Linked DNA regions of Homo sapiens. The protein of the gene in region 3 purifies or fractionates together with the protein of the main gene of each other region. This does not show direct contact. Each region holds a gene or a part of one and is shown on either strand. Other genes may lie near its edges. The genes, in order: BPTF, CARNMT1 and C3orf49.

Region 1 (3,735 bases), on a different chromosome or scaffold from region 3:
AAAGTCATTACTGAGATTAGATTCCTCTTCAGAAGTAATAGGTGATGAAGTAACTTTCTTAACTTCTGAGGTTTCTATTTCCATATCTTCTACCTGATTAACTGAATTGCTTTCTGGACAAGATGCTGAGGGTGTGGTCGTCTGTGTACTGTCAGACTCTTTGGTTGATGGCAGGGTCTCAAGGCTATCTCGGTAGTTACCTTCAGCATCTGAAGAACTCAGCAAATGCGATTTTGTTTCGGAGCTGTTTCTTTCATTAAAATCTTCCATGATGACATCACCATTAATGAATGGCCTTATAGCAGATTCTTTAACAGTCAATGATTTAATATCATTCTCAGGGATTATTTTATTTATATTATTAACCTTTGGTTCAACATTACCACTTACTACTCTACTCTCAGAAATTTCTTTCAAGCATTCACCTTTCAAATATATTTTGGGTTTATTATCTTTTCCATTTATTTGAAATGTACTTGTTCTCTGTCCTTTCTTTTCAGACTCTCGATTTTCATTATTCTTTTTGTCAGTGGTATTTTTTAGCTTTATTTGATCACTACATTTATTAACTGGTCTCTCCTCTAATTTCTTCTGCTGACTTGGTTTTTTACCATTTGCTTCAGTCCCCTTGACCGGCAGCCTGTCCTCACAGTTTCCAGTGGACTCACCAGAAACCAACTCACACTTTAACGGCTCCAAGACTTCAACATCTTGTTCTCGAGTTCTGAACTGTTCAGAAATGCTTTCATTGCTATTCTGAACAATCATATCTTCTTCACTGCTATCCTGAATAGACACGGTATCAGAACTATTTTCCAAAGTGCTATTAGATTCAGAGTCACATCCCAGTTTTCCTTCAAAGTCCATTGCTCTTGACAGAGGTGTGGCATCTCTGTCATTGGTACTTTTAGGCACTGATGAATGTAAAGCACTCTTGGAAGAAGAAACAATGGTGTCACTTTCCTCCTGTATGAGCGGTTTTTTGTTCTTACAGATCAAAGTACCAATATCATCTGCACTGGCTAGTTTAGAGTCATCGATGAAAAAATCATTTCCTTTTGTTTTACTCTTACTGGGTTCCTGGCCTCTACTGGCAAGGTCAGAGACTTTTTCTTCTATGTCATTTTCAATGGAATTTTGTTTCGGACATTTTGTTTCTGGGCTCCGAATGGAGACATCATCTAACACTCGATCTTTTGGATAAAGTTTGTTTGTGGTATGACTAGGATCACTCATTCTAAGAACTGAGGAATCACTTTCTGAACATCCCTGAATCAAGTCCTCAGGTTGATCATTATTTGCATTTGGGCTCTGTTCTTGTCTCATCGAGTCACTCTGACACCCTTCTTTTGCTTTCGTTATTACTGGTGATTCAGAGAGATTTTTTGAAGAATTTGTAGAAGTCTTTCCTATACCCTTAATTCCACCCTCCAACTTGATTTTTTCGAGTCGCTGTTTTTCTTCCAGTGTAAACTGTTTAATTCTCCTTTCAAGAAGTCCATCTAGTTTGGATGATTTTGTTTTCTTTTTGTAACTAGTCCTTAGATGAAAACCCTCACTAACATTGACCACATCTACTTGAGAACTCTCCTGACAATTTACATGTGACTCTGTTTTCATGTCATCGTCTACTTCCATTGGTTCTTCCTTGCAGGGTTTATCACTGTCAGAATCTAAGAGCTCCTTCACATCTGTGAAACAAAGACATTTATATAAATGTAATTTTTACTCTGAAAGGAGGAATTTATATATATATATTTTTTTTTTTGAGATGGAGTCTCACTCTGTTGCCCAGGCTGGAGTGCAGTGGCATGATCTCAGTTCACTGCAACCTCCGCCTCCTGGGTTCAAGCAATTCTCATGCTTCAGCCTCCCAAGTAGCTGGGATTATAGGCATGTGCCACCATGCCTGGCTTATTTTTGAATTTTCAGTAGAGACAGGGTTTCGCAATGTTGGCCAGGCTGGTCTTGAACTCCTGACTTCAGGTGATCCGCCCACCTCAGCCTCCCAAAGTGCTGAGATTACAGGCATGAGCCACCACGCCCAGCCAAAAATATTTTTTTAAAGTATCTCTAGCCACATGCATTATCTAGCTTATCTAGTTTTTTTTTAAAAATGACTTGTTACAAAAGACAATGTAGTTCCTCAAAAGGTTAAACAGAGTTACCATATGATCCAGTAATTCCATTCCTAGGTATATCGCCAAGAGAAGTGAAAACGCATGGCCACAAAAAACTTCTGCATGAATGTTCATAGCAGCATTATTCGTATAGCCAAAAGAGGAAACAGCCCAATGTCCATCAACTGATGAATGGATAACAAAATGTGGCATATCCATACAGAGTATTATTCAGAAACAAAAAGAAAGTACTGATAAATGCTACAACATGGATGAACCTTAAAACCATGCTAAGTGGATGAAGCCAGCCACAAAGGACCACATATTGTCTGATTCCATTTCTATGGACTGTCCAAAATAGGCAAATCCAGAGAGACAGAAAGTAGACCACTAAGCTGGTGGCACTTTCGGGAGGGGTTGGGAAGTAACTGCTAATGGGTATGAATGAGGCTTCTTTTCAAGGTTATGAAAATGTTCTAAGATTGATGTAATAATGGTTGAACTTTGTGAATATACTAAAAGCCACTGAATTTACACTTTAATTGGGTGAATTGTATGGGATATCAATTATGTTTTGATAAAGCTGTTATCAAGAAAACACAACGCAGTACCTTTCCTGTGGTGGGACCCTGATCCAGTGCATTCTTATCACCCCCAGGCTGCCCTCCACAGCTGACTCTCCTTACCTTGGTCCTTCTTCTCAGTAATCTTTGAGATATCCATTTCATTTTGGTCTGCTCCTTTTGCAGCATCTGAACCTTTTACCTCATCTTTTTCAGAATCAGGCTCTATTTTTATTTTTTTTGGACTTCGTGAACATTTTCTTTTATCTGACTCATCCATATTTTCATCCATATTATTTTTGGCTAAAAAGAACCATGTAACGATAATTTACGTTATTTCCAGAGTATTAGCACTTTAATATGTCAAGTTTAGTGAAAATAAACAAGTAATTTCCAGCAAGTTATGTTTCATTTTTTCATTTAAAAAAAAAAAAAAGACAAAGGTCTTATTGAGTATAAGGTACCATATAATCCTATATGCCTGGCTGACCTAAAACACAGAAGGAATGCCTGAACTTCAGACATTTCAGAAAACTTTGTGAACATTTTTGGTGAAATATGATTTAGGAAATTTGTTTTAAAACACTGCAGGATAAAAAAAAAAAGGGGGGGGGGGACCTGGTGCGGTGGCTCATGCCACTGCACTCCAGCCTGGGTGACAGAGTGAGGCTCTGTGTCCAAAAATTAAAAAAAAAACAAAAAACTGTGATTCAGTAACATAGTCAGCTACAAGATAAACATTAATACTATAGGCTGGTGCGGTGGCTCATGCCTGTAATCCCAGCACTTTGAGGGGCCGAGGTGGGTGCATCACCTGAGGTCAGGAGTTTGAGACCAGCCTGGCTAACATGGTGAAACCCGATCTCTACTAAAAATACAAAAATTATCTGGGTGTGGTGGTGCACACCTGTGATCTCAGCTACTCAGGAGGCTGAGGCAGGAGAATTGCTTGAACCCAGGAGGCGGAGGTCGCAGTGAGCTGAGGTCACGCCACTGCACTCCAGCCTGGGCGACAGAGTGAGACTCCGTGTCAACAAAAAAAAAAAAAAAAA
Region 2 (3,735 bases), on a different chromosome or scaffold from region 3:
TTGTAGAGATGGGTTTCATCATGTTGCCCAGGCTGGTCTCAAACTCCGGGGCTCAAGCAATCTGCCTGCCCTGGTCGCCCAAAGTACTGGGATTACAGACATGAGCCACCATGCCTGGCCATAAGAACATCATTTTTTAAAGTTAAATATATACTCACAGTATATCATTTTTATATTGACAAGATGGCCAAAATTTAAAATCCTGACTATATCAAATTTTGGTGATTGGTGAAAATATGGTGTAATTAGGACATTTACACACTAATGGTAAGTGCATACATCAGCGCAACCACTTTGGAAAATTAAATTTAGAGCATTACCTAGTACAACTTAGCATGGTACTTGCCTTATGACCTAGCAATTATATCCTAGAAACTCTTGCAAATGGGCCCCATGAAACATGAACAATCTTTGTCATAGCACTGTTAGAGATAAGAAACAGGTGGGCGCAGTGGCTCATCCCTGTAATCCCTTGGCACTTTGGGAGGCCAATGTGGGCGGATCACTTGAGGTCAGAAGTTCAAGACCAGCCTGGCCAACACGGTGAAACCCCATCTCTACTAAAATATAAAAATTGGCTGGGCATGGTGGCGCCCACCAGTAATCCCAGCTACTTGGAAGGCTGAGGCAGGAGAATCGCTTGAACGCGGGAGGCAGAGGCTGCAGTGAGCCGAGATTGCACCACTGCGTTCCAGCCTGGGCGACAGAGTGAGACTCCATCTCATAAAAAAAAAAAAAAAAAAAAGGAATAAAATATCTGGAAACAACCCAAAGGTCTACTATCAGAAATTATCATATAGTTACTATAGAATGAAGAAATTACAGTATAGTTATACAGTGGAATGCAGCGAAATGAGTAAATTACAGCTCATACAATAATATGTGAAGACTAAACGCTGATCTTTTTTATATTTTCTCTCTTCTCCAAGTTCTTCACTAAGAGGCCTGGGGAGTCATGCCTTACTAATTACGAAATCTCACTGGACAGGTTTTTATTAACCCTATATAATACGACTTACTTTCCAACCTGACTCTGGTATGGCATCTTATGACAAATAGCAGACTCAGAAGGAAATCAGAATATTTTACCCCAAAATATATTTGACATTTTGAAATGGCTGCCACATGGCCAACGGATTTCAATGGCCCCACAAAGCCATGTTTCCTAGGGGAAATATGCATCTGTCAAGAATCTCCATTAATGCAACCAGGCCTTCCTTTCTAGGCCTTTCCTGGATCCAGGAGAGATTAACTGAGAGCCTGATAACATTAAAGTCTAAAAAGTGACATTTAGTATCTCTTCCCTCTGAGGGCTGCTACCTAGGAGGCTTCAATTAACTTAACAAGAACCTTGGCCTTCACAAGCCCCTTAACTCAAGCATTCCTTTCTACTTACCATAGCTTACCTCTATCAACCAACTACCAGCTGAAGAATCCTTAAAACCCACCTATGACTTGTAACCCCCTCTTTAAGATGTCCTACCTTTTGAGTGAGATCAATGTATACCTTGCATGTAATTCCTGTATCTAAAATGTATAAAACCAAGCTGTAACCTGACCACCTGGGGTGCACTTTGTCAGGGTTGTTTGAGATCGTGTAACCACAGGCTGCAGTCACTATCATATTGGCCCAGAACAAACCTCTAAATATATTTTGGCAGAAATTGGTTACTCCCATCACCATCTGGATAACCTCAAGAACATATACATTTGTTGAAAACAATTGCAGTAAAATACATAATGTACAATTGCATTTCATAGAAAACTAAATATTATTTAGGGACTGAGCATATGTGGAAAAACTACACAGAAAGCAAAGAAGTAAAAATTCAGGTTAATGATTCTGAGGGTGAAAGAGACAGGATAATGTGTTTTAAAAACTAGGTGATTTATAAGTGTTCACTGTAATATTCCTTACATTTTATATCTATATATGTATGTGTATATGTTTAAATGTTCTTTGGTATTAATTCAATATTAAATGAAAATGGAAGTATTTTTCATTTTCTATTTCATTTTTCTTCTTTTTTTTTTTTTTTTTTGAGATGGAGTCTTGCTCTGTTGCCCAGGCTGGAATGCAGTAGCACGATCTCAGCTCACTGCAACCTCCCCCTCCCAGGTTCAAGCGACTCTCCTGCCTCAGCCTCCCGAGTAGCTGGGACTACAGGTGCGCGCCACCATGCCCAGCTGATTTTTGTATTTTTAGTAGAGACGGGGTTTCACCATACTGTCCAGGATGGTCTCGATCTCTTGACCTCGTGATCTGCCTGCCTCCGCCTTCCAAAGTGCTGGGATTATAGGCGTGAGCCACCGCACCCAGCCTTCATTTTCATTTTCAATTTCACTTTCATTTTCAATATCTTTGTCATTTGGTTTCTTAAATCTTCATTCATCCAAACAATTTTCTTATTTTTACCCTCTGCCAAATTATTCCAACTGCCAAACAGTAATGAACTTCAGAAGAAGCTCCTGACAAACAACCAAAAACCTGGCTGGTCGCGTTTTTACAAGCTTGTGTTTGGTGGCTTGGTGTGGGGGGCCCTTAGGGATAAGGTGAAGAGATCAAGTTGTCAGAAGCTCCACTGACATGCCCCTCTGGGGAGAGTATAATAATGAGCTTTGAAGTCAGAAAGATCAGGGATGAAATCCAGGTTATGACACCTATTTGCCACATGACACCAGGCAAATTACCGCCTTCCTTTGTCCAACTCTCTCATATACAGAAGCAAGATAAGAATGAACAATGATGATGATCATGGAAGCTGCCATTTGAGATTTAATAAATACCAGGGACTAAACCAAGTCAGTTAATACGGATTATTCTGAAAGATCTTCATAATTAGGTAGGTAGCATTACCTTCCTCTGCCTAGCAGACAGGGTTTCATTGGAAAAATAACGTACTCAAAAGATTTAGCCCAACAGCTGAAAACACAGCAAGCGCTCAAAATATATATACTATATATATACCTACTGTTCAATATACTATATAGAGTATATATACATAGTATATACATAGTATATATGTATATATACATAGTATATACATAGTATATATACTACTATATACATACCATATATATTATATATAGTATATATACTACTATACATACCATATATATTATATACATAGTATATATCTACTATATACAGTATATATACTATATACATACTATATATAGTATAAATAGTATATATAATATAAATAGTATATATAGGATAAATATATATACTATATATATATATCTACTGTTCAAAAAAGGAGTAGGTATATCTCATTTATATTACTAAAATGTTCAAAGCATGAACAATGTAGAAATTAGAAGTACTCAGGAAAGAAGGCCTAATAATTCCTCTTCTAGAGGGAACCACTTCTAACCTTTTGGCACATTTCCGTTTTGCTTAACACAAAGTTGCAGTGGCTCATGCCAGTAATCCCAGTATTTTGGGAGGCCAAGGTGGGAAGCCTGTTTGAGGCCAGGTGTTCAAAACCGGCCTGGGCAATATAGCAAGACCATCCTCTCTACAAAAAAATAAAAAAACAAAATGAGCCAGGCGTGGTGGTGCATGCCTGTAGTCTCACCTACTTGGGAGGCTGAGGTAGGAGAATTGCTTTAGCCCAGAAAGTCAAGGGGGCAGCGAGCTATGATTGTGTCACTGCACTACAGGCTGCGTAACAGAGCAAAAACCCTGTCTCCAAAAAAGAGAAGAAAAAAAAAAGTCATCTAGCATCTTAC
Region 3 (3,983 bases):
GAGGCTGAGGCAGGAGAATGTTGTGAACCCGGGAGGCAGAGCTTGCAGTGAGCCGAGATCGCGCCACTGCAATCCAGCCTGGGCGACAGAGCGAGACTCTGTCTCAAAAAAACAAAAAAAAAAGAAAGAAATACAGGGAGATTCTGTGTGCTCTTTACCTAGTTTCCCCAAATGATGACATCTTGCAAAACTATATTTTCACAACCAGCATATTGACACTGAAACAGTCAGAATACAGAACATTTCCAGTAACACCAGGATCCCTCATGTTTTATAGCCACATCCACTATCCACTGGTCCCCCCTTTCTTAAACCGGCATCTACGAATCTGTCTTCTGTTTGCGTAATTCTCGTCCTTTCAAGAATGTTATGTAAATGGAAATATACATCATGTAATTTTTTGAGATATGCTTTTTTTCACTCAGCATAATTCTTTGGGCATTCATCCAGATTTTGTGTATTAATTGTTCATATCTTTTTATTGCTGAGTAATAGTCCATGATGTGAATGTACCACACTTTGTTTAACTATTCACTGATTGAAGGATACTTGGGTTGTTTCCAGTTTGGGGCTATTATGAATAAAGCTGCTATAAACATTTATCTATAGGTTTTGTATGAACATAAGTTTTCATTTCTCTGGGTGAAATCCCAGGTTTTATATTATGCTATTACGTTGTATTAAATATATAACATATATTTCTAATATGGATTAAAACAAATTTATAACCATTAACAATGTTCTTCATATATTACCTAAAATATCTCATGTACCATCAGTAGCATATGTACTACTCTCCAGGAAAACACTGTTCTAAACAGAACCCAAATCATTCAGCCTTTTTCTGTAATTATATATGGGAAGTGGTTCAGTGACAGCCTAGACACTGGAGTTGAATGGTATTGGTTTAACTCAGGACAATTCCTAACTCTGTGACCTTGGGCATGTCATGTAACCTCTATAAGCTTTGGTCTTCTCATTTGAAAATGGGCATAATCTTTTCAGAATTATGAAAATAAAAGGAAATAATTCATGTGTTTGGAACCTTAAAAAGCATTCCATAAATGATACTTTTTATTACCATGTGGATCAGAACAGTGGGGAAAAGCCATTAACTTATGGGGAAAATCCATTAACTTAAAAGGCAAGCAGGGAGCCCACACTAGAGGGCAAAATAAGGGAGAAGCTAGCAGCCTCCCTTCTGGGACCAAGGGCAGGGTTCTGCAAAATGTACATATATGACTTCTAGGGGGTGCTATTCAATTTCATCCTTAGACTTGTGTATAGTTATTATAATGATTTTCTGGCAGATGGCAGTAAAATGTCCTGAGGAGGGAGCACCATTTCCTAATTCACCCAGAGATAACTTATGGGTAGGATTAATCTCCCGTAGACCCCTCTGAGACTCCTTTAATAATAATTTAATTTTTAAGTGATTCTACTACTATAAACATGTACACACATACACATACTGTGACACAGAACAATGCAAATACAGTTTCAGGAGATTCAGGAATTTTGAAGACCACCCATGTTAAAAGCCCAGTTCTAAGTGGTCTCAGAATCTCTAGAAGGTGTTTCCCATTCCCATCCTCCCCACTCTCATCCCCAATCTATCTAGAACATAATTAACAAAGGTGATTTAGCTCCAGAGCCTAGGAACACACTGCTGCAATTTCTGATATGAGCAGAACCCTCCCCTTCTTAAGTTTTTAAATATTTTTGTGTTGGTACTGAATTTATTTGGTTGTATTGCTTCCCCCGGAGTGCCTACTTTTCATTGAAAGTGGAAATCTCTGCAGTATTTTATTTTGTCCATGGAAGTTCACAAGCTTGGTCTTTGATGCTTCCAGGACTCATTAAAACACCTCACTTCTACATGTCTGAACTATAGCCCATGGACCTGGTAAGAGAGAAGCCCAAAGAAATTGGAAAATAAATCACCACACTGACTTTCCAAATTAAAATATATTATATTTTGGATGTTTCATACCTGTCTATATGGTTTTGTCATTGGCAAAAAAATAGCAAGTCTAAGGCAGTTTTAACGTTACATTAAACAATGTGTCCATAGTGAAATGTGATTAGTACATATTTCAGCAGCCCAAATTGCTGGGATAGGAGAAAGAAAGCACTGATCGTGGACCTATTTCGAAGAATGCACTAATGACTTTTCAAAATAATAGTATTTTCACGGGATGTGAGATGTCCAAAATTCTGATGCTGAAATATCAACATAGGATCAGAACTTATTTTAGTCTCCTATGCCACATTGAAACTTAATTTCGAGTGGAAAGGAAAGGTTTTCCCTGTTACAATTAAGATGTTTCTGATCATAAAATGAAGCTTACATTGTCACACTAGATTTCTTGATCCAACGCAGTACCCTCCCCGCCAATCCATCCAGAGTCCTCATTCCTAAATGCAATGCTTAAAAGGACATGCCACTATGCCAAACCCAAAGACTCTCATTTGACAGAAAAGGAAATGAATCTCTGTTACCTTTCTATCCCCTTCCTTTTGAATGAGCCATTTTTCTTCTTGAGTTGCTGGAATCTTCGGCACTGTCCAACTTTTCTGTAGGCAATCTTAAAGGGTTCTGGTAGATACAGCTGAGGTTGGGCCATTGCTCTCAACTTCACCTGTAGTAGCCGTTTTGGATTGTTTTAGTTCTTGAACTTACAGACTTCAATACAAAATCATCCAGTGACTGAATGTACTGTCAAGGTGTGGGCTATTCGGAATAAAATATGTAGGAAATTTTTAGAGTCTTTCCCTTATTCCCTTCCAGGTGTTAGAGACATTATTTGTGGGACTGGCCCTGTTTACAACTTCACAGAGGTCACCAGTGATGTATTTGACAGAGCTGTGTGAAATTCCATGGACCTTTGTGGAACACTTCACAGATTCTTGAACAAGGCAAATACAGAAATGATGATCTGATTGCCTCAATGCTGGCATTTGGATAGAAAAAAAAAATCAAACAACAACAACAACAACAAAAAACACCCACACACTAATTGACCACCACATTCAGAAGTGCGTATTTGAACTCTGAAGTGGTAGGGACCTATAGGAATACCAACGATACGCTGATTAACACAAGTTGAGCTTCTGTTAGATCTCTCAGTTACAGCTGGTGAATGTTCTCTGTGTCCTGTGGGACACATATGACAAGGCCAGTTGTTGTTTGGACATCTCAAAATGTACCCCAAGGGTGGTTTTCATTACATCTTGGAATTTTGCAGTGGTCTCTCAAAGTACATTGCTAAATTGAGGACCTGATCCACCCCTCCCTTCCAACATTGCCCCATTTATTTCGTGGTGAAGAGCGAATTCTGCCTGTGATGGAACTTCTCACCACAAGGTGGCAGCAGACACTAGGATTTATTCCTGTTACCCTCTCGCGGTTTGAGTTGTTCAGTCAAATAACTAGATGCTTAACAAGAAAAACTCCTCTAGAAAGGTTCTGGGAGTTACAAGAATTACTCTGCTTTCTGTGTTTGCATTAATCAATAATCTGGAGCATACTTCTCAAGCTTTCAAGTGCACACAAACTTCCTGGAGGTCTTTTTAAGATGCAGATTTCGATACAGTACATCTGGGCTGGGATCCAAGAATTTGCACTCCTAACAAACCCGCAGGTGACGCTGATGATGCCAGACTGCACTTGGAGTAGTGAGGGTCTTGTATGTTTCAGTACTGGGGAAAAGAGCTTTAAAATGGTCTAGAATGAAGTGTATAATGTTAAGGGGCTAAGAGAGTGGATTTGGGAATTATGCATGAGTTCTCATTTCTAGCTTAGCTATGTGACCTTGGCCAATTCATTTTAACCCACCCATGCTTGTTTTCTCATCCCTAAAGTGGGACAACTCATAGTGCCCAAGCCATAGTTTTATGGCAAAATTCAAGTGAAATAGAAATTCCGCTTCAGCAGGGAATGAGACCCAGGAATCCATATTCTAGGAGAGTGGGTGCAGATG

What was found.
Region 1: the proteins of C3orf49 (region 3) and BPTF purify together in Homo sapiens (affinity purification with mass spectrometry; one large-scale study listed by BioGRID and IntAct). This does not show direct contact.
Region 2: the proteins of C3orf49 (region 3) and CARNMT1 purify together in Homo sapiens (affinity purification with mass spectrometry; one large-scale study listed by BioGRID and IntAct). This does not show direct contact.

The regions. Positions count from the first base shown.
Region 1 is NC_000017.11:67,908,833-67,912,567, reverse strand, and holds part of BPTF (nucleosome-remodeling factor subunit BPTF), read right to left. Parts: intron 2,987-3,735; coding exon 2,807-2,986; intron 1,692-2,806; coding exon 1-1,691. UniProt on the Homo sapiens protein: Regulatory subunit of the ATP-dependent NURF-1 and NURF-5 ISWI chromatin remodeling complexes, which form ordered nucleosome arrays on chromatin and facilitate access to DNA during DNA-templated processes such as DNA replication, transcription, and repair.
Region 2 is NC_000009.12:75,018,244-75,021,978, forward strand, and holds part of CARNMT1 (carnosine N-methyltransferase), read right to left. Parts: intron 1-3,735.
Region 3 is NC_000003.12:63,818,116-63,822,098, reverse strand, and holds the start of C3orf49 (putative uncharacterized protein C3orf49), read right to left. Parts: upstream 2,801-3,983; 5' UTR 2,628-2,800; coding exon 2,503-2,627; intron 1-2,502.